Linked DNA regions of Homo sapiens: all the other regions are linked to region 1. The links come from fine-mapping of genetic effects on gene expression. A gene starts in region 1. Each other region holds a variant in brackets. All regions are shown on one strand. Distances are between the middles of the regions. Region 1 holds the start of SLCO4C1 (solute carrier organic anion transporter family member 4C1). Region 2 overlaps SLCO6A1 (solute carrier organic anion transporter family member 6A1). Region 3 overlaps SLCO6A1 (solute carrier organic anion transporter family member 6A1). Region 4 holds the start of SLCO6A1 (solute carrier organic anion transporter family member 6A1). Region 5 overlaps SLCO4C1 (solute carrier organic anion transporter family member 4C1). Region 6 overlaps SLCO4C1 (solute carrier organic anion transporter family member 4C1).

What was found.
Region 2: its variant is fine-mapped to the expression of SLCO4C1 in whole blood (INTERVAL, PIP 0.93).
Region 3: its variant is fine-mapped to the expression of SLCO4C1 in whole blood (TOPMed, PIP above 0.99).
Region 4: its variant is fine-mapped to the expression of SLCO4C1 in whole blood (INTERVAL, PIP above 0.99).
Region 5: its variant is fine-mapped to the expression of SLCO4C1 in whole blood (TOPMed, PIP 0.90).
Region 6: its variant is fine-mapped to the expression of SLCO4C1 in monocytes (TOPMed, PIP above 0.99).

What each region holds. Positions count from the first base shown.
Region 1 is chr5:102,293,160-102,298,238 of GRCh38, forward strand. It overlaps SLCO4C1 (solute carrier organic anion transporter family member 4C1), which reads right to left and starts at 3,125. Exons shown (of 13, transcript NM_180991.5): 1 at 2,749-3,125. The coding sequence starts at 3,103. RefSeq lists an enhancer at 2,891-3,090.
Region 2 is chr5:102,463,879-102,468,957 of GRCh38, forward strand. The region is part of intron 4 of SLCO6A1 (solute carrier organic anion transporter family member 6A1); the gene reads right to left. Among named protein-coding and RNA genes, the nearest start is that of SLCO6A1, 33 kb to the right of the region's middle. The variant C/T (reference allele first, on the strand shown) is at 2,862.
Region 3 is chr5:102,369,362-102,374,440 of GRCh38, forward strand. It overlaps SLCO6A1 (solute carrier organic anion transporter family member 6A1), which reads right to left. Exons shown (of 14, transcript NM_173488.5): 13 at 3,976-4,133; 14 at 2,413-2,762. The coding sequence ends at 3,991. Among named protein-coding and RNA genes, the nearest start is that of SLCO4C1, 76 kb to the left of the region's middle. The variant C/A (reference allele first, on the strand shown) is at 2,923.
Region 4 is chr5:102,496,658-102,501,736 of GRCh38, forward strand. SLCO6A1 (solute carrier organic anion transporter family member 6A1) reads right to left here and starts at 2,344. Exons shown (of 14, transcript NM_173488.5): 1 at 1,830-2,344. The coding sequence starts at 2,187. It overlaps LOC124901035 (a long non-coding RNA gene), which reads left to right and starts at 2,429. Exons shown (of 2, transcript XR_007058892.1): 1 at 2,429-4,169. RefSeq lists an enhancer at 1,731-2,231. The variant A/AAAC (reference allele first, on the strand shown) is at 2,629.
Region 5 is chr5:102,236,088-102,241,166 of GRCh38, forward strand. It overlaps SLCO4C1 (solute carrier organic anion transporter family member 4C1), which reads right to left. Exons shown (of 13, transcript NM_180991.5): 11 at 4,631-4,695; 12 at 3,164-3,301; 13 at 1-931. The coding sequence ends at 771. Among named protein-coding and RNA genes, the nearest start is that of SLCO4C1, 58 kb to the right of the region's middle. The variant C/T (reference allele first, on the strand shown) is at 2,477.
Region 6 is chr5:102,251,783-102,256,861 of GRCh38, forward strand. The region is part of intron 8 of SLCO4C1 (solute carrier organic anion transporter family member 4C1); the gene reads right to left. Among named protein-coding and RNA genes, the nearest start is that of SLCO4C1, 42 kb to the right of the region's middle. The variant TTA/T (reference allele first, on the strand shown) is at 2,171.

The DNA.
Region 1 (5,079 bases):
TTTACAATTCTTAGGATTTCAAAATAAAGTACCTAAAGTATCTTAGGATGACATTTTTATACGTTATCTAATAATACAAAATTTTCCGCATCCAATAAAATCAACTTCCCTATCACTTGCCATACTGATTAAAAATTAGTTAATAGAAAGAATTGTCTTTATGGTAAAACTTCTCTTTGAAAAAAAAATTTGTAAACTCCTCAGGAAGGATAGCACATTAATCCAATGACTCTTAAAGTGAATTCTATGCTATACAAGTTCCAAGAACACTACTTAAAAAAACAAAAACAAAAAAATCAGGAAACGCTCCATACTACATCTCTCTGTTGTAAATGAATGACAATAGGAAGCACATTAGAAAATTAAGTACTTAGAGAATCCCTGTTTGTCTTTGAGAAATGCTGGGTTAAATAAACTCATTCGAGAAATTTTGTTTTTCTTTCCAATTAAATGTATATTTAAATATACCATGGAAATGATCTTAAGGATCATGTTTGAGAAACATGGCAATAAAGTTTTCAGGCATTCAAACTTAAACTGAAACGTAAACTAGTAATTTATTGGGTCACACTTTTTATTATTATACTTTTTTTTGAGACCTTGCCTCGCTCTGTCACCAGGCTGGAGTGCAGTGGCGCCATCTCGGCTCACTGCAACCTCCACCTCCCGGGTTCCAGCCATTCTCGTGCCTCAGCCTCCTGAATAGCTGGGACTACAGGCGTGTGCCACCGCACCCGGCTAATTTTTGTGGTGTTTTGTTTTGTTTTGAGACAGAGTTTCCCTCTGTTGCCTAGGCCGGAGTGCAATGACACGATCTCGGTCCACTTCAAACTCCGCCTCCTGGGTTCAAGTGTTTTTCCCACCTCAGCCCTCCAAGTAGCTGGGATTGCAGGCATGCGCCACAATGCCCAACTAGTTTTTGTATTTTTGGTAGAGACGGGGTTTCACCGTGTTGGCCAGGCTGGTCTCGAACTCCTGACCTCAGTTGATCTGCCTGCCTCAGCCTCCCAAAGTGCTGCAATTACAGGCGTGAGCCACGGCGCCCGGCCATAATTTTTTGTATTTTTAGTAGAGACGGGTTTCACCATGTTGGCCAGGCTGGTATCCAAGTTCTGACCTCAACTGATCCGCCCGCCTCGGCCTCCCAAAGTGCTGGGATTACAGGCGTGAGCCACCATGCCCAGCCTATTGGGTCACTATTATCTCAGATTAAGCTTCTTAAATTGGGGACCTCTGGGTAGATGCTGCTCCAGACTAAACCTGACAAATTTTCTAGGAGTGACAATTACATTTGATAACAATTTTAGGCAATATTTTATATTAAATATAAAATGTTATATTTTGGAATAATATAGAAATTTCAGAGGAATTTTAAGATAATACACAAGATAAGACATTTTTTACTTGTGTCCAACTTTTTTATCTTCGCATTCCTTTGACACTGAGATGCTTCACAATTACCAATTTTGTAAAACTATGATCAAGACATTAATGGAGGGGAACTTTGGTAGGGACAAGAAAAGTGGACAGGGAAATAATTCTTCAACACAAATCTACCTTCAGTAGAAGAGCTGCAGCGGACTTGCAATCAATAAATGGTTACTTAGCATCTAATGCGCAAAGCAAGGGGCCCTGGGTTCCTTGAAGAGGAAGAATAAGAACAAAAAGTATACTTAGGCTTTGACTTAGTTTTCTATTAACTTAAAAAATGAGCTGTTTCCAACCCTCTAAAATCTATATTTCTAAGGTTGTATTTCTTCCAATTAATCCTTGACTGATTATACAGAAAATATTCTCGGACTATGACTCAAGTGACCAAAAAATATCTACATTCCAATTCAGCTAAGCTTCGGCATGTCCTTCTTGACTCCTCTCCACCTCTTCTCCACCCTTCCTCAAAGTCAACTCAGGTTAACTTCCTATTTTCCTTCAACCTCTGTATTGAACACACCAGAAGCAGCTTTAACCTTCCCTGTGCCTTCTTTCAAGGGAGCTGTTCTCCCTCCAGGATATCACTCCTCCAAACTGAGCTTAGATTGCAAGCCCCTGAGGGTATAAATCTGAACTGAATCTGTAACTCCCAAGAGAACCTAAAAGAGATCCTAGAACAAAACAGATGCTGGATAACTAATGTAACACAATGAAGATTAAGGCTCAACAACGTCGGGAGCCTTTGCTAATTTACTCACTGGGCTCCTCTGGTGACCACATACTCTCAAACTAAATACACTCACAAAACATGAATGTCTGTATCTAATTTATACGATAGATTTTTCATAGCTTTCTTCCTTGTAAGGCATCCCACTCCCACCTGCAAACGTATTACTCCTTCCCCTGAGGCAATGAAACAAATGTAAAAGTAAAATACCTTTAAAGAGTGCCTAGGTAAATTTTTGTCTTTATAATGTAAAATAAACTCCCCAGGGTATACCTTTCCCAAAGGAAGGTTCTTGTAATCTTCCCTGTAAGTCTTGAATCCGCTAAACTGAGGTAAAACACAAAAGAGAAAAAGGCTTGTATTGCAAGTTTGAACTGTAGTGATAAAGGAGAAGCTGAACTTTGGAAGGCTGGCTGGGGGCCGGTAGGTTGACCTTGGTGAGAGCGCAAGCAAGTTCCAAACCCGGGGCCACCTTGCAGGGCGCGTCCACCGTCCCACGGACCCCGCGCACCTGCCCTCTCCCCCGGCTGGCTCGCCGTGCCCACCTCGCTCTCCACTGGCCCGAGCCTCAAGCGGGCGCTGGACTTTACCTTGCGTGACGGCCAAGAGGCAGTAGTGAAGCAGAAAGCCTCCAGGTGTGTTGCAGCGCTGGAGACATTGAGGATGGAAGTTCCTCCAGCCGTAAGACCCCTCCTCAAACTCGGACAGCGACAGTGACCGGAGCTTCTCTTCGGAGACATTGGGAGGGGCTGAAGGCAGAGATGGCTCTGGTGACTTCTGGGGCTCCTGGGGCTTCTGAAGCTCCTGTGGCTGAGAATTCTCTCTTTGGGGGTCAGAGGACAAGGCAGAGACTTCGATTTGGGAGGGCGACGCAGACAAGCGGCGCAGGATGTCTGGGCTGGAGGGGACAAAAGCCAAGTTCTCAATACCTTTGGCGCTCTTCATGTCTGGATGGGTTCTCCCGACTCCGGTGCTTCAGAGCAGCAGAGCCAGGTCCCTCTCTGGCTCCTCCCACAGGCAGGTGACAGCGCCCCCGTGCGGGAAGCTTCCCGCCTCCTGGCCCTCCAGCCTCCAGCGCACTCTCCGCCACCGCCTGAACCTTCCTACTCCAGCTCGCAGCTGTCTGGAGCGCAGAGCGCTGAGCGGGGGCGTTAGCGCCCCAGCCTGTGGCTTTGGCGCTCAGCTGTGCCTCACCCGTCGCCTCAAGGACCAACCGGAAGGCGCGGCGTGGGCGTGCCACCCGGCGGCGGCCGAGTAGAGGGGGCGAGAGTTCTCACCCCACAGCCTTCGACCGGAGTCCGCCTCCGCCCAAGCCCCTGCGGTTCTGACCTGAGCCTTCAGCCCGCAGCGCGCCTCCCTTGAGCCCAAGCACTGGGAACACACAGAGACTGTGGGAGTCTCTGGCCATAAGCTCCCCTTGGGTGCTGACATGAAACCTGTAAACAGTTGCATCAGGAGATTGTTCAGGAAACTATCTTGCGTTTTCTTCCTTTGCTGCTTACCAAAGCAGTCTAGGCTTGGACTCCAAGAATCAAGACGTCAGAGGTATACTTTGGTTCATGAGCATCTTGATAAGACTCTTGCCTGTCATCCTGTTACTGGTAGAAGGTGTCCAGGTTCTTGGCATCTTGAAGAAAGAATTGAAGAAAACGCACAAACAAAGCAAGGAAGGAATGAAGGGGTTTATTGAAAATGAAAGTACACTCCACAGTGTGGGAACGGGCGAGCATAGGGGCTCAAAGGCCCGGTTACAGAATTTTGGGGAGTTTAAATACCCCCTAGAGGATTCCATTGGTTACTTTGGGTATGCCCTATGTAAAGGGAGAAGATGAAGTAAAGTTACAAAGTCATTTATGGCCTACGCCCTATGGAGAGGATATTTCCTGTTACAGCTGAAGTGTGAATAGGCCTTATGTTTCCTGCCTCCAGACCCTATTTTCCTGCCTCAGTCCTCCTTAGAAAAAGAAATCCACCCCACCCCACCCCCATCACCACCAGGATGAACATCACAGCATAACCACTGCTTTGCTTTTCCTTCTCCGAAACTGAAGGACCAGAAATTGTCTCTCTGCTGTATATTGCATATGTAAGATATACAGTGATGACAATCATGTAAATAATTTCTACCGGGCCAGGCGCGGTGGCTCACGCCTGTAATCCTAGCACTTTGGGAGGCTGAGGCGGGTGGATTACCTGAGGTCAGGAGTTCAAGATTAGCCTGGCCAACATGGTGAAACACTGTCTTTACTAAAAATACAAAAATTAGCCAGGTGTGGTGGTGCAGGCCTGTAATCCCAGCTACTTGGGAGGCTGAGGCAGGAGAATCATTTGAACTCGGAAGGTGGAGGGTACAGTGAACCGAGATTGTGCCACTTCAATCCAGTCTGGGTGAAAGAGTGAAACTCTGTCTCTTAATAATAATAATAATAATAATAATACATGTCTAACTGTGGAATAAATAAGAAAAACACTTCGAAGAGCTTAACACCATTGTGTCATGGTAGGTACAATTTAGTCATTCATTCTTTCACTTAACACAGACACAAAAAATTCTTGTGTCCTAGGTGCCAAACATTGTTCTAAGTTCTGGGGGTACACAAGTGAACAAAGACTGGCAAATACCCCTACCCTTATGGTGCTTATGTTTTAATAGGAAACAGACAGTAATAATACATAGTACATGGCACATAATATGATAAATACTATTTTGTGAAACTTTTGTTTCAATTATATATGCTGTGTTTACTGGGTTGAGAGACAGATATAAAATATGTATCTTACTTTGGACAGAGGTACATTCTGTTACCTGTTTCCTCACAATCGAGAAAACTCTAGACTGGCCAGCCGGGCGCAGAGGTGCAGGCCTGTAATCCCAGTACTTTGGGAGGCCAAGGTGGGTGCCTTGAGTCCAGGAGTTTGAG
Region 2 (5,079 bases), 170 kb after region 1:
TCCGTCTCAAAAAAGAAGAAAAAAAAAAAAAAACAGGAACAAAATAATGGCATTTGCAGCAACCTGGATGGAACTGCGCATGTTCTCACTCATTAGTGGGAGCTAAGCTATGAGCATGTAAAGGCATAAGAAGAAATGTAATGGACTTTGGGGACTTGCAGGGAAGGGTAGGATGGGGGGTGAGGGATAAAAGACTACACATTGCGTACAGTGTACACTTCTCAGGTGGTGGGTGCACCAAAATCTCAGAAATAACCACTAAAGAACTTATTCAGGTAACAAAAAAAAACACCTGTTCCCCAAAAACTATCGAAATAAAAAAACAGAACTTCTTACGCAAGAAAGAACATTCAAAGTTTACGGAAAGAAAAATATTGACATATTTGATGATAAAAAACTTTTAAAGTTTCTATAATATACCATATACAAAGTTTAAGGACAGATTGGGAGAAATTATTTGTCATAGGTCTAGCAAACAATTAATATCCATAATAAGTGAAGAATTTTTATAAATCTATAAGAAATAATGAACCAATATAAAAATAAGACAGGAAATAAGAAGCAAATTCAAAAAAATACAGAAGGTTAATATACATACTGAGTCCTAATAATACATTCTCTTTGAGTAATTTAATAAAAGGGACTGTTTAAGTGACATAAGGAAAGTTTAAAGAAATCTGTATGGGAAGAGATGGTATCCTGGGTCTTGCAACAGAAGAGAGCCATTACCACCTGAAAAGGTGCCTGAAGAGGCAAGAGGAGACAGAAGTTAAGTGAACTCTACAGGTGGTTGTATCAGAGGGTCATAAGACAAATGTAGCCTTTATTAAAGAGACACCACCAAGCCATTGAGATTCATCAGGAAAGGAAAGGAAAGAATAAATATCCAGATTTAAGTTTCCTGATGCTCTCAGATCTCTTGCCAGTGCTCTTCACAAGCCAAGCCTAAAACTAAGCTAGATGGTAAAGGAGACCATTGATGTTGTCTATAATAGGTCAACCGCTTTAGGTACAGAGCAGAGTGGAGAAAAGTAGGGAGTGGAACTATAGTAGCAAACTGATGATATCCAACACAATCCATCACTTTTGTACCTCAGAATCTGCTAGTGCCCTTTGCTGGAAAAAAAAAATCTTGGGTGAGAAAATTCTTGAGATAACTACACCAAATCCTGTTAGCTATTATACAATTATTGGGTTATAATAATTCAAATATATTTGCAACTGAAAACTAAAACACTGTTGTAGAAGATGTTGTTAGTGTCCCATTTGTATTATGTCAGCTAGACATTCATCACTCCCATATATAACAAATGATTAACTTTGAATAGCAGGAACTTTATGCTTGGCCCAGTTCTCAGAGAGCAGGTCAGAAATACCTAGGGCTTAATAATAACCCCAGGAGCATCGCTTGACCAACAATTTCTAGGAGTTAGTGGATATATATATATATATATCTGGGATAACTCATATCTTACACTGTCCGCCAGAGTTCTCCAGTGGGATTGAGTCCTAGTTGCCCCAAGCAGTAAATTGCTCAATATAATGAACACTTTATTGTCTTCTTTAACTTCCCATGCTTATTTCCCCACTACCCTATCATGCTTCCTAGTATCATTTCTCAAATTAATAGTGTGCATTCATGTATTTATCTCAAATTCTTTGTCTCAAGTACCTTGAGAGAAACGCATTATGTCTAAAACAGTTACCATTACCAGGGATCATCATATAACCTAGAAGAATAAAAATTAGAAGAAAACTAACACAAAACCTAGTTGCTACTGTCCCTGCATCATTAGTAGTGACAAGGTCTGAGTTTACCATCACATCTTCCTTCATTCACCATCTATCATATGAATACCTTACCCTCAGTTAGCACCTTGGTTGGAAAGAATACTTCACCTGGTGAGGTGACCCAAACTATCATTCCTATAAGATCTGAGCCTTAGTGGTATTTTCTTTAATGAGTTGAGGCAGTTATTCATTAAAGAGAACTACTGGACAATGTGAATACTAAGAATCAAGTAAATCCCCTGGATTTCAAACAAAGTTGTGCCTGTCTCTACTATACAGCAGAAACCCATTCCTCCCCCACCAGAAACTCAGAATATTCACATTATTTAGTATTGGGCTTCTCTTTTTCCTTTTTAACTTTTATTTTAAGTTCATGGGTATAAGCGCAGGATGTGGAGGTTTGTTAAATAAGTAAATGTGTGTCAGGGGTTTGTTTTACAGATTATTTCATCAACCAGGTATTAAGCCTAGTATTAATTAGATGCTTTTTCTGATCCTTTTCCTCCCCCCACCCTCTGCCCTCCAGTAGGCCACAGCTATTTTTCCTATCTATGTATCTATGTGTTCTCATCATTTAGCTCCCATTTATAAGAGAAAATATACGGTATTTGGTTTTCTATTCCTGCATTAGTTTACTAAGGATAATGGCCTCCGGCTCCATTCATATCCCTCCAAAGGACATGATCTTGTTCCTTTTTATGGCTGCATAGTATTCCCTGGTGTATATTTACCACATTTTCTTTGTCCAGTCTATCATTGATGGGCATTTAGATCAATTCCATGTCTTTGCTATTGTGAATAATGCTGCAATGATCATATGTGTGCATGTGTCTTTATAACTGGATGATGTTTATCTTTGGTATATACCCAGTAATAGGATTGCTAGGCTGAATGGTATTTCAGTCTCTAGGTCTTTGAGGAATTACCGCACTGTCTTCCACAATGGTTGAACTAATTTATACTCCCACCAAGAGTGTAAAAGAGTTCCTTTTCTCCACAGCCTCACCAGCTTCTGTAATTTTTTGACTTCTTAATAGCCATTGTGACTTATGTGAAATAGTACCTCATTG[C/T]GGTTTTGATTTGCATTTCTCTAATGATTAGTGATGTTGAGACTTTTTTCATATGATTGTGGACCACATGTATGTCTTCTTTTGAGAAGTGTCTGTTCATGTCCTTTGCCTACTTTTTAATGGAGTTGTTTGTTTTTATTCTTGTAAATTTATATTCCTTATAGATGCTGGATATTAGACCTTAGTCAGATGCATGTTTGTTAAAATTTTCTCCCATTCTGTAGGTTGTCTGTTTACTCTGTTGATAGTTTCTTTGGCTGTGCAGAAGCTCTTTAGTTTAATCAGATCTCAATCGTCAATTTTTGTTTTTGTTGCAATTGTTTTGGTGTCTTCATCATGAAATCTTTGCCCATGCCTATTCCTGAATGGTACAGCCTAGGTTTTCTTCTAGAGTTTTTGTAGCTTTGGGTTTTACATTTAAGTCTTTAATCCATCTTGAGTTGATTTTTGTATATTGTGATTTTTACATATGATGTATATGAAGTTCTGATTTCTTTGTAAACCTCGTCTTTACCAAAAATACAAAAACATTATCCTGGTATAAGGATGCATGCCTGTAGTCCTAGCTACTCCAGAGGTGGGAGGATCACCTGAGTCCAGGAATTGAGGCTTTAGTAAGCTGTGATTATACCACTGCACTAGAGCCTGGGTGACAGAGTGAGAATCTCTTTAAAAAAAAAAATAACAAAACTGGTGGCAGGCAAGAGATCTTGTGCAGGGGACCTCCCATTTATAAAACCATCAAATATCATGAGACTTATTCACTACATACGAGTACAGTATGAGGGAAACTGCCCCCACGATTCATTTATTTCCACTTGGCCCTGCCCTTATCATGTGGGGGTTATTACAATTGAAGGTGAGATTTGTGTAGGGACACAGCCAAACCGTATCAGTGGCATTGAATGTTCTTTTGCATTTGTGTGGTATCAGTTGTAATATCTCCCATTTCATTTCTAATTGAGCTTGTTTGAATCACCTTTCTTTCTTTCCTGGTTAATCTCACTAATGGTCTATATATTTTGTTTATCTTTTCAAAGAACCAGTGTTGTGTTTCATTTATCTTTTGTATTTTTGGTTTCAATTTCATTTAGTTCTGCTCTGATCTTTGTTATTTCTTTCCTTCTGCTGGTTTTGTGTTTGGTTCATTCTTGTTTCTCCAGTTCCTTGAGGTGTGACCTTAGATGGTCTAATCATGCTCTTTCAGACTTCTTGATGTAGGCATTTAATGCTATAAACTGTCCTTTTAGCATTGCTTTTGCTGTATCCTAGGGGTTTTGATAGGTTTGTGTCACTATCATCGTTCAGTTCAAAGAAATGCTTAATTTCCATACTGATTTCATTATTGATCCAATAATAATTCAGGAGCAGGTTGTTTAATTTCCATGTATTTGCATGGTTTTGAGGTTTCCTTTTGGAGTAGATTTCCAATTTTATTCCACTGTGGTCTGAGAGGATACTTGATATGCTTTCCATTGTCTTAAATTTATCGAGACATATTTTGTGGCCTATCATACAGTCTATCTTGGAGAATGTTCCATGTGCTGAGGAAAAGAATATATCCTGCAGTTTTGGGGTAGAATGTTCTGTAAATATCTGTTAAGTCCATTTGTTCTAGGGTATATTTTAAGTCCATTGTTTCTTTGTTGACTTTCTGTCTTGATGACCTATCTAGTGCTGTCAGTGGAGTACTGAAGTCCCCACTATTATTGTGTTGTCATCTATCTCATTTCTTACATAGAGTAGTAATTATTTTAAAAATTTAGGAGCTCCAGCATTAAGTACATATATATTTAGGATTGTGACATTTTCCTGTTGAACTAGACTTTTTATCATTTTATAATATCCCTCTTTGTCTTTTTTAACTGTTGTTACTTTAAAGTCTGTTTTGTCTGATATAAGAATAGCTACTCCTGCTCACTTTTAGTTACCATTTGCATGGAATATCTTCTTCTACCCTTTTACTTTAAGTTTGTGTGAGTCCTTATGTATTACGTGAGTCTCTTGAAGACAGCAGATACTTCGTTTTCTTCTAGGGTTTTTATGGTTTTAGGTCTTACATTTAAGTCTTTAATCCATCTTGAGTTAATTTTTGTATACGGTGTAAGGAAAGGATCCAGTTTCAGCTTTCTACATATTGCTAACCAGTTTTCCCAGCACCATTTATTAAATAGGGAATCCTTTCCCCGTTGCTTGTTTTTGTCAGGTTTGTCAAAGA
Region 3 (5,079 bases), 76 kb after region 1:
TTAGTGAGGTTATTTGTTTCTTGCTTACAAATTTGTTTAAGTTTGTTATATATTCTGGATATTAGACTCTTGTCAGATGCATAGCTTGCAAATATTAAAATTTCAACACTATTGTCATTAGAGAAATGCAAATCAAAACCACAATGAGATACCATCTCATACCAGTAAGGATGGCAATTATAAAAAGGCCAAAAATAGTAGATGCTGACAAGGTTGTGAAGAAAAAGATATGCTTATACACTGCTGGTAGGAATGTAAATTAGTTCTGCCATTGTGGAAAGCAATGTGGCAATTTCCCAAAGAACTTCTAACAGAATTACCATTTAACCCAGTGATGTCATTATTGGGTATATATCCAAAGGAATATAATTCAACCTGCCATAACAACACATGGACAGAGATGTGCATTGCAGCCCTATTCACAATAACAAAGATATGAAATCAACCTGAATGCCCATCAATAGTAGACTGGATGAAGACAATGTGGTACATATACACCATAAAATACTACACAGCCATAAAAAGAATGAGATTATCTCCTTTGCAGCAACATGGATGGAGCTGGAGGCCATTATCCTAAGCTAACTAACACAGGAACAGAAAACCAAATACATGTTCTCACAAGTGGAAGCTAAATTATGAGAACACATGGACACAAAGAGGGGAGCAACAGACATCAGGGCCTACTTGAAGGTGGAGGGGGAGAGGAGGGTGAGGATGGAAAAACTACCTATTGGTTACTATGCTTATTACCTGGGTGACAAAATAATCTGTACAGCAAACTCTCATGACATACAATTTACCTATATTACAAACCTGCATATGTACCCCGAACTTAAAATAAAAGGTACATATATATATATAGAGAGAGAGAGAGAGAGACAGAGAGAGAGAGTAGAGTTTGTTGCTTCAGAGTATATATATATATATATATGTGTATATATATATATATACACACAAAGAGAAACATGTAATATATGTTGATTACATATATATATGTAATCAACAGGGAAGGACTATAATTAATGTTTATAGCTAGTAGAAACCTCCTATATCAAGAGTCAACAATAGATTAATAAATTCATCACCAGCACTTTCAATAGCAGATATTCAGATCCTCAGAAAGTAGTCTCACATTAGAGTTTGAAAACCCATATTGTGCTATATATGATACCCAAATAAAATATTATATTGTCTATATTATATATAGACAATGTTAAAAATATAAAGAGTGCTTTAAAAAATATTAAATTGAACACACCTTTACTTCTCTGTGTCTGCCAGACTGAAAGAACCAAATAAATATAAAAATGGGAGCAAACTCTTTATAGTGCTGAAAACGGAGAAATACGCCATTAATAAACCCCAAATTGACATTTTCCTAGCTACATATTGCATTTCTGGACTACATTTAACACTAGATTAACTGCTAGATGTTACAAGCAGTAAAATTTCAATCTGATATAAAAAAAGAATCCAAAAAGAAAAAGAGTAAGAACCTGAGATTTTTATAGCAATCATTTTAAGAACTCAGAACAAGTGCAACTTGAAGAGCACAAATAAATTATCATCAATTTTAAAATATGAGCATTTCCATATGCATTCATTTACAGTGTCCCTTTAGGCAAAATTAAGCACCAGGACTGAGTAGGCTTATGGAGAAAATATTGTTAAGGTTAAACCATTCAAAAATATTCAACTTTGTAACCAGAGCTCTAACAAAAACAATCAGAATCTTAACACACCTTAGCACAGTTAAACCTCCACTAGCATTTTTACCCACCACCATAGTCAGTCCTTTGTAGTATTAAATGCTGGGGCTCACCTTCCTCCTTTAAAATGTAGGTCCTTGAGGATATGAACTCCAAAAAGAGGCCAGTTTCATCAAAGTTAGAATTCCAATATTTAGAAGTATCTTTGCAGCTTCTTCACCTGCACTTACAGTATCCTTAGGTACATTAATACTCTCAAAAGTATAATGAACCTTGATGGCATTAACTCATTCAAAATTGACTCCAAAGGAAGGCACTTCTGTGGGATTTTTAGCATTTTTTAAGATTTAATTTATTGCTAAGATCTTCTCTATAATAGTGAAAAACTTCCCCTGATTACTTAAAGAGGTATTAAATTGGAATTAACCAATAGAACTTCTGAGTTATATTTACATTACTTCCCTGTTTATCAATCCTCCATGAATTAGTTTGTGATACAGAAACACGTACTCTGTAATAGCAAAAATCTATATTTAAATTTAAAGTTTCAACAGTACTTCCCAATCCATAATTTTTATTATACCTTCACTGATTTATTTTCTGAAAAAAAAGAAAGCAAGAGAAACATAAACAGGTAATATGTATCTATACACACACACACACACACACAAACACCCCACAAACACACTGTACAAGCATGTTCAAAGTGGCTTTGAATGTTATTATTTTACTTTATTTCCTAGTTGTATAATTTTTAATATTTCTAGACAGCAGAATATTAAGAAGAAATGTAAATAATCTAAAATTATTAAACTTTAATTCTCCCAGTAAATCCTAAAAATTCTACATACATTAAAAACATTATCAGAAATGTTTCACAATAGGACACTTTATTATGAAAATGCAGATCACCATAAATATATTTTTGCTACTTATGTAAACATAATGTGTGATTTTCCTCTTCTGAAAGTTGGGCACAGAAACAAATCTTGGAGAATCTGTAAAAGAGAAACTCGTTTTCACACTCTGATCCTCAAATGATCTGCAATCCTGCTGGTTCAAACAGAGAAGAGTCAAGCAATCAAGTAGAGTTTTACATGAAGACTAGTTTATAGGTTTTTAAAATGCATGTTGAAATAAAATATACAACAGGAAATAAAAATGTGTAGTAAGATATGAATATTCCCTGCTTCACATTTTCTTCTGCTAG[C/A]CACGACCATGAATAGGGCAATGTCTACCCATCCACATAGGGTCATTGACTAATGTTAATAACAGAGGAGAAATTTTGTCAGCTATTATCACTTCTCCCAAGAAAACAAAGAAACATTGTAGAGAACCTTGTTCCACAACAATCTGATTTTTATACAATATTTGGAAAATCTAATTTCGATTGATGTACAATAATGTATAAAAAATTATAACAAAATCTCTATACAAATGCATTTTAGCTTAAAAAATCTATAAATAGTTGACACATTTTCTACATTTAAATATTTCTTCACATTAAATAATTACGATTAATTATAAAATGAAGTGTAAAAGCAAGCAGAAAAGTGGGTTTCAACTCAGATTATCAGCTAGTCTTTATCAATAAAATCCAAGTGAAGGTAAAAAAAAAAAGGAAAAAGGTAACAAAAAACAGGTAGAAGTATATGAGTATATTGAATTTTATGTTTACTAAGATTAACGAAACATCAAAATATTTATTATAAACTGGTCAATTAACCAAAGAAATTTTCTGAGGAAACCTCTGTATGTCAAATCATAGATAAATAAAATGTTAATTTTTAAAAGGTTTAAAATAGTCCTTTTTGGAAAATAAATATAACTTTAATTTCAACTTTAATTATATGAACTTAAGTGGCAAATATACTTTTATTTAGAAAAATGGAGAAATAAATATCTACTGCCCAAATCAAAAGTACTAAGAATAAGCTAAAAAGGGAACCTAATTAATTCCAAATAGCAAAGGCCAACAACTAATGGGCTATCACGTCAGTTAAAATTAACCTAGGTGTATTTTCCTATTTTCACTCAATCTCTTTCAATCAAAGTATTATCTTTCATTGAAAGTATTAAATGTGTATTTTATATTTTTAAAAATTTTAAACACAGACTATATTATTATATTTGCACTCAAAATATAATAAAATATATAGAATTATATGAAGCACATTTGTTAAACATGTAATTACATTATTATTACTTTAAATTTTATTAATATTAATATTTCATTGATAGATTGACAATGTGTAATTCTTACACAATGATGATCCAGTTACAAGTCAGTTTCTTCTTTTTTCTTAACTTTTGGATTCTTCACAGTTACATCTGGGAAGTCAGTGTTCTCATTTAGACGACGTTTGTATATGAAAAATGCAATAGTAGTGAAGATGATAGTGCATAGTTTGCAAAGAAAACCTAAATTTAAAAAATGCAATGATCAGATATGTCCATGTATTTAGAACAAAAATGTAGGCAAAAATGCTATTTACCAAAGAAAGGTAAGCATATTTCACCTATAAAGGTATAAATTTCCCAATTTTAGAATGCAATTAATGCCATAAAATTATATTAAGTTACTTAAAGGAGATTTTTAAATGTTTATAATATGTTTTAGATTTCTTAGACATATTACCCCCTTCCCAAGTGCAAGGTGTGCTATTACCTCATAGACTGTGTTAATTCTGAAACATGAAATATAAATTCTGACTTTCAAAACTTAGCTATCAATAGGAACCAGAGCTAAGTCATTTCATGCAGCTTTGCTCTTTTTGAAATATTCATCATTTTTCAAATAAAACAAATATTACAGAAAAGTTCATTAATTTTGCAGGTTTTTTCATTTTCATGTTTCAAGCTGCAGAAAGTTAATACATTACAACATTACAAGCATTATACAAATGTACTTGAATATTGGATGCAATATTTAATTAATTCTTTTTCAATTTTTTTAAATTAATTCTTTTTTTTTTTTCTTTTGAGACAGGGTCTCACTCTGTCACCCAGGCTGGAGTGCAGTGGCACGATCTTGGCTTACTGCAGCCTTGACCTTCCCGGCTCAAGCGATCCTCCCACTTCAGCATGTGCCACCACACCTGTCTAATTTTTATAGTTTTTGTAGAGACGGGGTTTTGCCATGTTGCTCTCTCAAACTTGTGAGCTCAGGCGATCTCCTTGCCTTCAAATCCCAAAGTACTGGGATTACAGACAGGAGCCACCACCATGCTTGGCCTATTTTTCTTTTTCTTGAAACAGGACCTCCCTTTATTGCTCAGGCAGGGGTACCCCTAACATAGCTTACTGCAACCTGAACTGCTGGGCTCAAGTGATTCTCTGGCCTCAGCCTCCTGAGTAGCTGGGACTA
Region 4 (5,079 bases), 200 kb after region 1:
CTAGGCATAATCTGTCTTTTCCTTTCTTTTAAAATTCATTCATGCATCGAATACATATTTACTGAGTGTCTTCTATACCTCAGTCACTAAGGAGACATGATGGATAATATAAATATAATTACCCCCTTATGGTGCCTAGATGAAACCATTATCCAGCCAAACTTGTCATTCACTATTGTGAAACAAGCCTTTCTAAAACAAAACACGATTCATTAACTCGCTTCCCTATTCAACAAATACTCTTTAATTTCATTCTGGCTTTCAAAACTGTACCTACTATAAAGGCATAGTTCAAATGCTTGTTCTTCTAAGAAACTTCTTTGATAATCTCAAGACAAACTCGATGACAATTTATTAGTTTTTCTAGTATGGGTCTTACAACATACAGCCTTTTGATTGCACTTATTTAGACCTAGCATCTTAGAGCAAAAAAGAGAACAGGTTTGTCAAATTCCAATGCCATCATTGAAAAGAGGCTAGTAAAGAATCTTGATGTAATAGGGGAGGTGAGAGCTGTGGTCAAGTAGAGAGGCATGCCAGGTCTAAAGTGTTCAAATTCACCTTCTTCAAAATATGTGGGCAAAAATAACAACCTCAAGTTTAGATTCTCTTGTATAAATTCATAGATGAGGAAAAAAGATCCAATAGAGAGTGGCTGAGCCAGAATGTCGCAAATTTGTGAGCAGGATCAGAAACCATTTAATGATCATAGACACCGTTTTCAACTTTATTTTAAACTCCAGGTGATTCAACCCAGAACTTCTCAGAGTTGGTGACCAAACAACGATAAATGACTCAACAATATCCTCTCTGCAGCTGGCTATCTGGAAGCCAGGCCCTCATCACCCACAATGTGTAGGATGGACTGTGCCAGTCAGGTTCTGGAGGAGGTGAGGCACCCAAGTTCGTGCCAGCCGGTTAACCTGTTTTTGAAACTACCTTTGCAAAAATTATAAATGAGGAAATTATGACAGTGAAACAGATTGGACCTAATCCACTCCTTCTTGCTTCTAACCTTTAAACTCCTTGTTCATTCCTGGGCTTAGGCCGAACTAACTTTGGGAAGGAATTCATTTCACAGTTTGACTCTGAAACAAAATTGATAATAGCTCTTTTCTGAAAAGATCCCCTTGTTGCCTGGGGACTAATCTGCCTTTGCAGGACTAACAAATTATCTACAAGATTAGAAATTAAGGTTAGGGGTCATGCAGCCTCTGGCGCCAAGAGTCTGAACCTCCGCAAATTGCTCCTGGGGAAAACATCATTATTGTAAAACCGAAGCTCGGTGCTTGAGATATTTTGCAGACCCTTCACTGGATGGTTGAGCTGACACCACCCAGACAAGTAATCTGGGTCAACTAGTTCTGCCATCCCACCCAGGAACAGAAGATGGCAAGAAAACCTGACTTCAACCACACTATGATTCCCTGACCAACCTGACCAATCAGCACTCCCCAGTTCCCGAGCCCCTGCCAGCCAAATTATCTTTAAAAACTCTGATCCCATCCCAGAATGCTGGAGAGACTGATTTGAGCAATAAAAAAACTCTGGTCTCCCGCACAGCCGGCTCTGCGTGCCTTACTCTTTCTCCATGGCAATTCCCCTTCCTTGATAAATCTTCTCTGTCTAGGCAGCGGGCAAGGTAAACCCACTGGGTGGCTAAACTTTGATCCGACAACGCCTTGAGAAGTCAGAAAGCAGCCTCAGGCTGGGCCACCCCAGGGCATGCTGGGCCACCCCAGGGCGTCCTCCGCCATACTCCCTCTCCCGCCTCCGCCAGTGCGGCCCCAGCTGCCCTCGCCACAACAAACCGCCTCCTTCAGGCTCACCTTGACATATGAGCAGGATGCAGTAGAAAATCATGAAGCAGCGAATGTTATTGCAACACTCACAGCAGGTGCTGACTAAGCAGCCCAAACCACAGGGCTGCTCCAAACTGTCATCCACTTCTCCCGGCTTCTTGGAAACTGAGGACTTGGCTTTTTTCCTTTTTCGGAAACCGCCGAACCTTATCAAGGCCTCTGGAAGTAGTCTCAGATACCGGTGTTTTTTCCCGGGCTTCGAGGACTTCGGGGTTCCCTTGGCCCTCCTGTCCTTAGCAGGCTGGGCCCGCGCGGCCTCCAGCGGCTCTACTCCCCTTGAGACTTCATCCTGGCTCCCAGAGTGCCGGGCGACGCCTACGAACATGGCTCACCCTGGGCGGCTCCTGGCGACGCGGCCCGAGTGCTCTCGGCTGCCCGTCCTGCCTGGGCCAACCCAAAGGCCAGCCTGGCGAGGGCGTCGGAGGACTCGGTGGCCACAAGGGGCTCTTGCCGCCCAAGCCTCCAGAGCGAACGTTTCTCCTAGGGCAGGAGGCAAACGTCCTCCCGGGGGTTGACGGTTGAGAACTTCCAAAGCTGTTTTCCTTCTTTTCTTCCACGTGCGGAAGGAAAAAAAAAAGCTAAAACTAGATTTTGATAACTGCTAACACAGACAAAGAGCACCAGAAGCATGGAAAAAAAAAAAAAGTGGAACTGTCCGTCCCCAGTTTCCCCAGACTTACTTTATTATGGTGGCTTTCCAACTGAAAAATCTCACTAGAAACAACCTGAAAATTGTTGAAGGACCAGGAGAGAGCAGAAGACATTA[A/AAAC]AACAACAACAACAACAACAACAACAAAAACAGTTTCACCACAGTAAAAGATTTGGACGCACAAAAATCAGAAATCAATGTCCGACTGAATGTCCTTAAGTGAAGTGTTTTACACATAGAAATTATTGCCCTACAAACTCTATCCCAACTCAAGAACAGAAAAGATTATCATTTTCCACCTTAAATGAGGGCACGAGAACCAGAGGATTATTTTTTCAGGTATAAAAACTTTATTGAAGAGAAAGAATGTAAGCGAAGAGTAGTAGGATATGAAACGTGGCTTTCTTTTTTTAATGAAAATGCAACTTCTTATTGGTTTTCTTTTCTTAGGCTGATATATAAGCTCTTTAGGCCATGTATATGTGGAGGGTGACTTTCCAGGAGAGATGGCACTATCTTCTCTCCTATGGATTAGACATTGTGTTGCCAAAAACAATTTAGCTCTTCAACAAGATTTTGTGCTGCTCCAATAGTGCTGGCCTGGTAGACCAGGGAAAGAAGAATTAAGAACCACTGACCTGAAGCCTGATTTCGACTCTACACTGCTTCATGATAATAAATGTAAAAAAAAAAAAAAATCCACAGGAATCCTAGGAGGTAGGAAAGACAGTGGGGAGTGGTGGGCTCTTATTCTTGTGCTTCAAAACCAGAATAGGTACTGCTTGGGTGCAGAGCGGAAAAGACAACTCCATTAAAAATGAATGGTACTGGGAATTTTACTTCTACCCAGAATGTAGAAAGCCAAATAAAATGTAACCCCCACTCCAATAATAACAACAACAACAAAGCTGGATAGTATGAAAAAATACTTTTTTTATCAGAGAGCTACATTTCTATAGCTATGGCTGCTGTAAAGAAACTAGGCAAATTGATTCTAAAGGACAATAAGCCCTTCAGAAAAAGGATGGGACACACAAACCATTTTACTTTTCAAAGAGCACAGAAAGAAGAAAAAGCAGTCATAAAGGAAGATAGAAACACTTGAAATTTTAATGAATTCTTAAAGGCCAAGGGAAGCTTAACAGTTTAGAAACCCTAGAAGCCTAAGAAATAAGGGGAGTCTATACCCGTTTACCAGATCTTTGTTTAAGGGAAAAGATTTGGTCGTGGTAGACTGTCCCTGAGAAAGAAGAAGGAATACTTTCCCTCCTACCTCCACTGACCCTTCTGCTATCCAAAGCAAAAGCAGTTTTGCCTCTGGGATTGAGGCAGGAAACTCTCATGCCCTCCAGTCTGTGACAAAGGTTATCTGTTACAGAAGAAAAAACCCACTGAAGGAGGAGCAGCAAACCATCCTGTCTATGGCCTACCTTAAGATTGACTGCCACCAGAGAGAGGGATAGAAATAAAACAGTTTGCCAAAAAGAGAGGAGCAGGAACTTCATTTCTTCCCAAGAACCCCACTGAAACAAGGCAAAGCCCGAACTTGAGGTTCAGGCATTCAGGGCATGTCCAAAATTGAGGCTGGACCAGGGACAACCTAGCTTCTGCCTCGATGAGGAGTTTTGCATGAGTGAAAAAACAGCACTCCACCAATATAGGTGAGTCAAGAGAGCAGAGGGAAACCCTACCTGTGGTGCAAGCATACAGGACCTGCTGAAAGCTAAGGGTGGAATGGAAACACTGACAAACATACCTTCAACATTCTTTGATCAGCATATTTTTATTACATAATGTAGGACACTGTCATCCAGCTACAAAAATTGTACTCTAAGTATTTAAGTAGAAATTGTGGATATTTGTTTACCTTGCTCATTTAACCTTAGAAAACATCACACTTAATTCATTTTGGCTACCTTTATGATAGTACCATGCATGATAGAATTTCATGGTATGGATTTACTATAATTTATTTAACCACTTTCTTTTATATTGATGGGTATTGGATTGTTTTTCAATTTTTGCTCTGACCATACTGAAATTAACATGGTTGTATGTATTTTCCTGAGACAGATCACTGATTTTAAAAATCTTTTTATAGATGATGTCGATCAGAGTTATAAAACTATCTCAATTCCAGAAATATTAAATGTGAAAAAAATTATCTTTGAATCTTAAAATGTATGCATATTAATTACATGTTTCCTAAAAGTTAGCAAGTAATTATAGTATAAAATTTCGATACAGGCAATGAAATATAGCTACCAACTAAAGCATTCCCTGATGAGTTCAGCAATCCAAGTGCTTAAGATATTCAAGAAACCAGCTTAAATTAAACAATGAATGTTTATGAGGTGCTCTTTTATATTCTCTATGTAATATCTATTTCCGCTAAATGCTCTAAACATGTAGGAAGAACTACTCACTAAAGTAACATATTGATGATAATTCATATAATCCTTTTAGCAAATGAGCCTATGAAGTAGATAAACCGCATGATGGTGCAAATTATAATAATGTAGCTTAATATAAGATGACCTCAACTATTAAGAGATATAGAACTGTTTTCTC
Region 5 (5,079 bases), 57 kb before region 1:
CAATTGAATAATATTATCACAGAATCATAAATGTGTTAAAAATTGTAATATCAACAAATTACCTCCTGGAATTCTTGAGTTAAAGTGAAAATATGTGTATACAATGCTGATGTTTCTGTATTCACTATATACTAAGACACAAGGATGATAACTAACATATTCTAATAGTTCAATAATTTGCTTGGAGAAAGGCCAGGCTAGTATACATAAATTTAAAAACAAATTACATGGTAAACCTGGTTTTAAATTCATAGGCTTTCAATAATAATTCCCGGAAATCATCACACAACTTTGATTAGTTTAAATTTTTATACCATAAATGTTCTAAGCTCAAAATATTGACAATGAAAATTAAAATTAAACAAGTTGTAATGGGGATAGAAACAACATTTTTTTTAAATGTAAATTTTTCTAATTGTGGGCCTTTTTTCTTGTTATTGCTTGAGGATTTCATACCTAGACAATGGGAATAGGAAATAAGTGTGTATGTGTGCGTGTGTGTGTGTGTGTGTGTGTTCGTGTGTGTGTGTGTGTGTGTGCTCGTGTGTGTGTGTGCTGTGTTTTGAGGCTTTACGTGGGCTTTGAAGGCACAGGTCTGTTTCTTGCATAAAACAAAAACTACATAAGTAAAAAAATACATTTGATTATAAAAACATCAATTTTGTAAATATGATTGTCCATATTGGATAGATAATCCTGCCATGGCAATGTGTGTTCTTAAAAATCGAGGTAAATTTTCCAGGTGTAAAACAGTCTTCTCTTTTCCCATTTCACCCTTCTTTTACTATTTTGTTGAGATCCTGTTCTGCTAAAACATTAGTCACAACTGCATTCTCTTTATGAAATGACACATCTGTGGCTGATGGAGGTGGTTTATACAAAAAGATTGCAAATCCATTGAAGAACATGGTGATAACTTTACAAGTAACACCTAAGTGAAAAAAAAAATTAATCATGTGCTTTTGTTTTTAATTATGATAAAAATTATCACTGAGAAAAATCTTCATGAATAGAACATTTTTAAAGAGAATAATTACATAACCATTATAGTTCTATGTTTAAAATTTTTGAAACATTAAGGGGAAAGAAAAAACATTTGTATACAATTCAAGTCACTAGTACTTATTTTCTTTCTAAGCTGTAATAGAGCACAATAATTAACTTATTCTTGGTTATGCTTGTGCATTCTTGTAAAATAAGTGTTGTATAGAACTAAATAGGAATTGGGCCACCATCTAGATTTGTTAACACAAGCCCATAATCCCAGTACTTTGGGAAGCTGAGAGAGGTGGATGTCTTGAGTCCAAGAGTTCGAGACCAGGCTGGGCACCATAGGAAACCCTGTCTCTACCAAAAAAAAAAAGTGCAAAATATATTCAGGTATGATGGATGGTACAGCCTGCAGTCCCAGCTACTTGGGATGCTGACGTGAGAGGATCGCTTCACCCCTAGAGGTGGAGGTTGCAGTGAGCTGAGATCACACCACTGCACTCCAGCCTGGGTGACAGACAGAAACCCCGTCTCAAAAATAAATAAATAAATTCGTTAACACAATATGATATCTATAAAAAATTGCAAGCAACCAAAAGTCAATAATGAGGGAAAGTAGTTTGTAACATTCTTGAACCTGAATAAATTGAAGAACATTCCCTTCCAGGACAGAAAATAATTCTAAAAATTAAAAAGGTTTTGGAGTTCTTAAAGCCTCTGTGGGAGGATATCACACTCAATACTTAACCAAATCTACTCTTCTTATCAGCTAAAAATAAACATTAAGATTCACTTCACAAACTTTGATTTATTTCCAAGTAAATCTGATTTTAAGTTCAGTTATATGAAGAGAAACTAGTTCCAACCACAGTATAAGCATTTAATAATTGCCAGCCTAATAAATTCAACGTGGTCTCACAGTATAGTTCTTGCAGTAGCTGGTTTCTTTTTGTTGATTATTAATATTTTGTTTAAAAACATGTATTTGAAAAACAGGAATGCTCATTCATCTAGGCATTACTAGACTATAGAATGATTAGTTACATAGGTACAACTTACAACTTTTTTTATTTGTTTCATTCTGAAAATTTTAAGGTTTTATATATTTTGTGGGGGGATTCCCATTCATCATTGACTAGGAAAATGAATGATTTGTTCTATCTATATCTTTGACCAAAAAGTACAAACAAAATGAATTAAATAAATTTTAAACATAAAAACATTGTATGTAGCCATGATTGTGGTAAAAATATATAATTTTAAAAATTGAATAAAAAATGGTTTTTAACAACAGGTAAAGTAATGGGATGATTAATTTTGCCTATACTTGTCAATACTTACTCCCCAAGTGCTATAAGAATTTATAGATTATTTCTTCAGCAAATATTCTATTACTCTATCTCTATCAACTCAGAAAGCATACTCTGGATTTACATGCATGTAAGAGTAATAATAGCCTATCTTGATCAACCTGTGTCAAAATAAT[C/T]ACAATGAAAATCACACATTATATTAGATACATATGTATACATACATTCAGGATTTCTCTAAGCTATTTTAGTTTCCTAGGTTATTATTCAAATTTTAAATTTTTAAATTTCAACTTTTATTTTACTAGTGTAAACTAGATACATTGTTTTACTTAATCTTAATCTTGCCTTAAATTTCATTCATTGCTTAACCAAGACATTACAAACTGCAAAAGGCAAAAAGAATTAAACATCACAGCTAACCTTCTAAACTATAAAAATGTTCCTTACAACGTGCCTTGGAGACAAAGGATACTTCCCTGCCTGAGCCATATGTGTTTGCAACACCTAGATACCTAGATGACAATCATTCCAGGGAGTTTCTCAGAATTCTCTTTTAGCTTTCGAGTATACTTTCCAAAAATGTTTGAGATAAGTTATTAAAAGAAAAGTATATACTGTATGATGTAATGAAAGCTAGAATTTTATTTTCTTGTATTTAGTACTGAGCCTTGCAAACTCCATCTGTTCAAAGCCTTTCATAACATGCTGTGATAAATGTTCTCTGCTTCAGGAAGACTACTGGATGGTTCAACAATGTGGACTGAACATTTCAAAATACCTGTGACCCTAAGTAACCAACAATGAGATTTTTTTTTTTTTACATCCTTAGTTTACTCTAAAATTATCAAGAAGTCACCACTTACTTATGGCTACTAGCATATGGGCCATCTTGATGTTATCATAAATCCAGCAAGCTCCTTTAATTCCACAATCATTTATATCCCAAAGAATACATGTGCTGTCTATTGTGAAACCAAATATAATTGGTCCAGGAATTGTCCCTAAAAGAATTATGGGTGAAATATACAACAGTAAAGATTACAGTTTAGAATTACAGATCTTTTTATACATGATCATACATATATTTTATAGAAATAAAAATAAGTATTCATCTGTCCACATGCAAATTAATTCATGTACAAGTCAAAGAAATATAAAGCAGATACAATATTCTAAAATAATTATATGTAATTACTATGTATTTCTAATCAATTCAAAAAAGTATTTCAATAGAAATATCCAATATATATTGGGCTAAAAGTTAATATTTTAATTCACCACTTTTCTAATATAATGAATAAATATGCCTTTGAAATTAGCTATTATACTTGTTAAAAATCAAAATAAATTATTCATGATGCACAAATAAATCTGCTGAACTATAGTATATGTTGTATCTATGTGGGTGTGCATGTGTATATAAACTAACATGGGCCTCTGTATGTATTAGTGTATGTATATACAAATATATAGTCTTATAATACCATATCTAGGAATATCACTATCTTATATACCCGCCACCATTTCCAAGAGGCCATGAGGTACTCAACTTCCATATAGTTAAGAAACTTCCAATTATTTGAGGTTGTAATTTTTAGACAAAGATTTCAGCTACATCCAGTCTGTTCTTTCATGACCTGTAGCATGATACAAGTCAGAGTACTAGACTCAGAGTTAGGAATCATTTTCCTACTTTCATTTCTATCACTAGTTGTGTAACTATGGGCAAAACCCTGCACTTCTCAGGGACTTAATTTACTCATCTGAAAAAATTGGCAAGTTGGACGAGGTGATCTCTAATGCCCCAACTTTTTGTTTTTGCTTTAATAAATAATCTTAATATTATGTTTACTATGTCTGTCTTTCTTGTAATTTGTCCTGTACCTGGAACTTTATAAAATTCTCTGGTACAAATTCTTTCTTCCAATAATTCTTAACTAGTCACAATATCCATACCACAGTTGCTGTTGAAACATTTTAACATCATTTTTAATTGCTAGTGTAACACAATAGTGTCACGAATAGAGACAAAAGCAGAGAGAAAAGAAATTATGTGTTGATGATCATATTTTATATTTGAAATAGACATGACACACCTTTTAAGATTTTATTAGCAACATAGTTGGAACAGGTAACCAGTCAGGTAGGTTAAAAGTATGCAATAAGTAAATAATCCTATATCTGAAACATTGGAAAATGGCTTCCTTCAACAAGAATGATGTAGCCTTCCACTATAATTTTTTTTGCCACAGGCCATAAATTAAAAAATAAATAACACTAATGAACCAAAATAGCCAACAGTTAGCAATGAATAAAGAAAAATGGCATACCTAATAATCGAAGGACCATAAATTGTATTCCCAAGGCTAGGGACCGTTGTCTGTGATTAACACACCTGGAAATATTAAATATATATGAGACCAAAAAAGGTGGTATAGTATATTCACTCTTTGAGCAAGTTCACATTTATAAGAGTTTAGCATTCCTATATTAAAGTAAATGTTGTAAACGCAAAATAATGCATTTGTAAGAGCTTATAAATGGTTTAATCTTCCTGGGATTATAAAAGAAGAAAAATGTTATCTGACCTAAAATATTGCAAATAACACCAAAGAGTCACTAGTCTTTATTAATTTTAATAAATGTAAAGAGAAAGGGTATTCATTAACAAGACATATTTTCCATAAAAGTCATCAATAAATTATGTATAGAAGGAGTGTACCTCAATATAATAGAGCCCAAATATAACAAATCCACAGCTAACATCATACTCAATGGT
Region 6 (5,079 bases), 41 kb before region 1:
AACATTTATAAGATCAGTCATATAGTGTATGGAATGAGAAGGGTACTGAAGTCTTGGGAGTCCACTTATTTAATAAAGACACAATGGACACCAATTATGTGCTAGACTACTCAAGGTGGTAGAATTATATTTAAAAGAAAGAAGGAGCTAGAGTTAGAACTAGAAATGACAGATTGAGGGAGAGAGAGAAATGGATAGAAGGAACGGAATGAGGGAGTGAAGGAGAAAAGGAGAAAGAGGGAGGGAGAGGGAAGAAGGAAGGGAGAAAAGCGAGAAGGAAGGGAAACGGGGAAAGAAGGAAGGGAAGAAGGGAGGAAGGGAAGGGAAAGAGATAAGGAAAGGGAAAGAAGGAAAAGGAAGGGAAGAAGGGAGGGAGGAGGAGAAGCAAACCTCTGCCACCATGAAGCTAACTTCCTTGCATCAGGGGTCAAACACAGTAAATGAGTGATTTCTGTAAGTATTAGAAGATAACCGACACTGTGTTGGAAAATGATGACATACAAAGTAGGCGGAGAACAAGAAAGTCATGAAGAAAACAAATTAAAGAGAAAAAAATGACTAAATCAGTAGGGAGTCTGAAGGAAAGAGTGATCAAGATAGTAATCTGCCACTCTGCCTGCAGTCTCATCTTATTCAAATCTATTCCACAGATGCTGCCAGATTTATCTTTATCAAGTATGATGATAATATCAAGGGTTGATCACATTCACAAAAGCCATCACCAGAGTGTCCGCTCACAGAGCTCATAACATAGATGCAGAAATAAGACAACCAGAGAAAAACCATCCCTGCAACTCTAGAAATAGCCTTTACACAGCAATTTTTAAAGTTCCCAATATATAATTCTCATGTTATTGATAAATAATTACTGAGATCATACAAAGTATAAGACAGCATGATGCAAATTATAGTATTAACAAAGAAATATAGCTTATATTCCTTAATATCAAGGGGTGGTCACATTAGTCTACATATTTTACAAAGGTTTACTTCTTGAGGTAACTAGAAAGCTATTAGTAGAAAAACGGCAGATGCTTGTGAAGTTTATTAAATTTTCTTAGTGTATACATATTTAAAAATATTAAAATATCCTATTTTGAAATGTTTAATAGATTTAAAATATAATAAAATAAATGTGCATATATAAACATCTTTATGTTTGCCACAAGTAGAATTCAAACATTAATTTCTTAAATACAAAGTATTCTATAATTATGCCTCTATAACAGGCTAAAATTTCCCTAAAACTATTGCAAAATATTGATATGCCTCTTTAAGATGCTATTTCATATAATCAATAAAATTCTAGCTAAAGATCAGATACAGAAAAAAATACTGTGTGTATACACTATGGTATTTCTATATTCTATGAGGTTTTAAGTAAAACATGAATCATCATTACCACCACTGATCACCAAAATAAGACTCAAAGTTCCTATAGATTGTCAAGGCAACAAAAGAGCAGTGGGGAACAGTGGGAAAATAAACAGTATTCATGCAATCGAATTTAGTATTGTGCCCAATTAAAGATTTAATAATAAATTACTTTAAAATATTATTGAAAAATATCCTGACCATTATCTCAAGCAAATTAACACAGGCACAGAAAACCAAATACCACATGCTCTCACTTAAAAGTGGGAGCTAATCACTGAGTACTTATGGAATAAAGATGGCAACAATAGACACTGCAGATACAAGAGGGAGAAGAGAAGAAGTGGGGCAAGTGTTGAAAAACTATTAGCCAGGCACAGTGGCTCGCACCTGTAATCCCAGCACTTTGGGAGGCCGAGGCGGGTGGATCACCTGAGGTCAGGAGTTCAAGATCAGCCTGGTCAACATGGTGAAACCCTGTCTCTACTAAAAATACAAAATTTAGCTGCGTGTGATGGCACGCCTATAATCCCAGCTACTCGGGAGGCTGAGGCAGGAGAATTGCTTGAACCCAGGAGGCAGAGGTTGCAGTGAGCTGAGATCGTGCCACTACACTCCAGCCTGGGCGACCAAAGGAGACTCTATCTCAAAAAAAAAAAAAGAAAAGAAAAACTATTCAGTACTATGCTTGGTACCTGGGTAACAGAATCAATCATACCCCAAACCTCAGCATCATATAATATACCCAGGTAACAAATCTGCACATGTACCCCCTGAATCTAAAAGTTGAAATTAT[TTA/T]TATATATATATATCCCCTGATCTTACATTTTTTGGAAATGCTGTTATATTAAACAGGGACTTTCAAAGAACATATCAATGAACCTAATTCATTAATTCATGGATGCAAAATCTCTTTTTACCCATCTGTGCTTACCATGGCAAAAGTCAAAGATTCTTTGCACCCCTCTACTAGAAACCCTACATCCTCAGAACCTCTTCTGTCTCTCACTCCCTGAAAAGGTATTTCTTGAGCTTCTTAGTCTGTTCTTTCCATAGACAGGCTTACCTAGCTTTACTTTACTTTGTTTTATTGTACTTTGCAAATCTTGTGTTTTTTACAAACTGAAGGTTAGTGGCAACCTAGTGATAGTGATAGTATTCAGTAAGTCTATCAAGTGCCATTTTTCCCAGAGTACACGATCAGTTTATGTCTATTTCATATTTTGGTAACCTTGCAAAATTTCAAACTTTTTCATTATCATTTCTGTTATGGTGATCAGTGATTTTTGATGTACTATAATAATTGTTTCAGGACACCATGAACCATGCCCCTTTAAGAAGTAAAATTTAATCAATGAATGATGTGTGTGTTCTGACTGCTCATTATTGTCTTATTTTAAGAAGCTGCCACAACTACCCCAACCTTTGGCAACCACCACCCTGGTCAGTCAGCAGCCATCAACACTGAGGCAAGACTCTCTACCAGCAAAAAAATTACAACTTGCTGAAGGCTCAGATGATTGTCAGCATGTTTCAGCAATAAATAATTTTTAAATTAAGGTATATACATTGTACATTGCTTTTCTAGAAATAAGGTTATTGTATATGTAATAGACTACAGTATAGGGTAAATATAACCTTTATATGCACTGGAAAACCAAAATATCCACTTGAGTTGCTTATTGCAATATATGCTTTATTTTGGTGGTCTGGAAGCAAACCCACAATATCCTCAACATATGCCTGTACCTTTTCTTTTATACGTGTTTCTTAGATGAGACTAGTTTGACTGACCTGTTTGTAATATACACATTTTAATACTCAGTGTATAGAAGCTAAAACTAAGAATTTGGGGCCATGAGAAAAAAATGATCTGAAAATGTCACACCTACTTTGTGACATTAAATTCTGTTCCTATTTCTATTTATATCTATATACACACACATACATAAATATGAGTAAAAACATATACGTTTAGTGATATTTATGTGTATTCACTTTCAGTTTTTCTCATCACTAAGAAACATGTATGTGTATTAAACACTATATCCCAGATCTTAATATATCTTAATGGCCAACCCCTACGTGAACCTCAGAATTACCCCATCACACATGCCTTCCTTTCTGATTACACACCTGGACAGCACACCTGGTAGTAACTATTATTTAAGGTAGACAATATTAAATGGATTCACATGTACTTTGTTACTCAAGGTGATAAACTATGTGTTAAACTATCCAGAACTTCCTTTTTTTTCTAAAAGGAACATACAAAAAATGTTTACTGGGATAAGTTTGGGTGAAGTTTATAGGGGTGAAAGTCAGGTCTACACAACTTAACCTCTACCTACCTTTCAACATTCCAAAATATATTTCTACTATTTCTAGACACATAATCTAAGTTCCATTCAACCTGGTCTCTGAAACTAGCCTTCACATTTTATAGCATTTATAACCTTGGTTTAGCATATTCCCTCTCCCTTTCTCTCTTCTCAAATCTTTATTTCTCAAAACTCTTTGTATCCTTGAAGGATTTTTAAACCCCATTTCACTATTATGCTGTGAAGCCCTTCTGGATTCTAATCAAATAAAATTGAAAAGCTCACCTTCTTTTCAATTCCATAGCAATTTTTTTTAATCTCCCATTACCTAATTGACTATTTGTTCACTGTTTTCTTTTGCAATCTCTCCTTTAGAACAGGTATTTTGCCAAGAAGATCTGCCAGAGGAAGCATTCAACAAATGTTGAACAAATGTAATGGAGCTTGGCCGGGCGCGGTGGCTCACACCTGTAATCCCAGCACTTTGGGTGGCCGAGCCAGGCAGATCACTTGAGGTCAGAAGTTTGAGACCAACCTGGCCAACAGGGCGAAACCCCACGTCTACTAAAAATACAAAAATTAGCTGGTCATGGTGGCATGCGCCTGTAGTCCCAGCTACTCCAGAGGCTGAGACAAGAATCATTTGAATTCAGGAGGCAGATGTTGCCGTGAGCCAAGACTGTGCCACTGCACTCCAGCCTGGGTGACAGAGCAAGACTCTCTGTCTAAAAAAAACAAAAAAAGAAAAAAATGTGATGGAGCTTAACTAAACACTGCTTTAGAACACTCAGCATTAATGTAAAAGAATCACAGATATATTAGCAGCAACTACAAATCATGATGATTGTCATTGGCAAACTTTTCTGAGCAAAGTAGATTATATTTATATCATCTATATGTCATATTATACAAAATTATGGAGTCCTTGACCTAACGTACCACTTTCCTTGACAGCCTCAAACACATGTAATGAAACAATTAAAGCAGCACTGTGAGGTATAAAATGCACTGCTGTGCAACACCCTCCTGCCTGACCACCTACTTATGGCTTAAAATTTCAAAGCAAAACAAAAAAGGAAAACAAAGAAATATAAATGGTTGAATCAGTTATAGCTAGAAACATGTCTACAGGTGAGAACAAGTTATTTATTTATTTACAATAAACATAAACTTCTAAGTAGATACAATAATGGTAAGTATTAGCAAGGACTAGCTTTATTCTAATTTCTCTTCTTGTCTGTTTGCAACCAACCTAATAAGATAATTTTTATCATAATTATGGAGTTATTTCCATTTCTAAAAACTTAAATCAATAAAAGCATATAATGTGAAATTCTCCCTAGGATGTGAATCGCTTAGAGGCAAAAATCCTACAGTATTAATC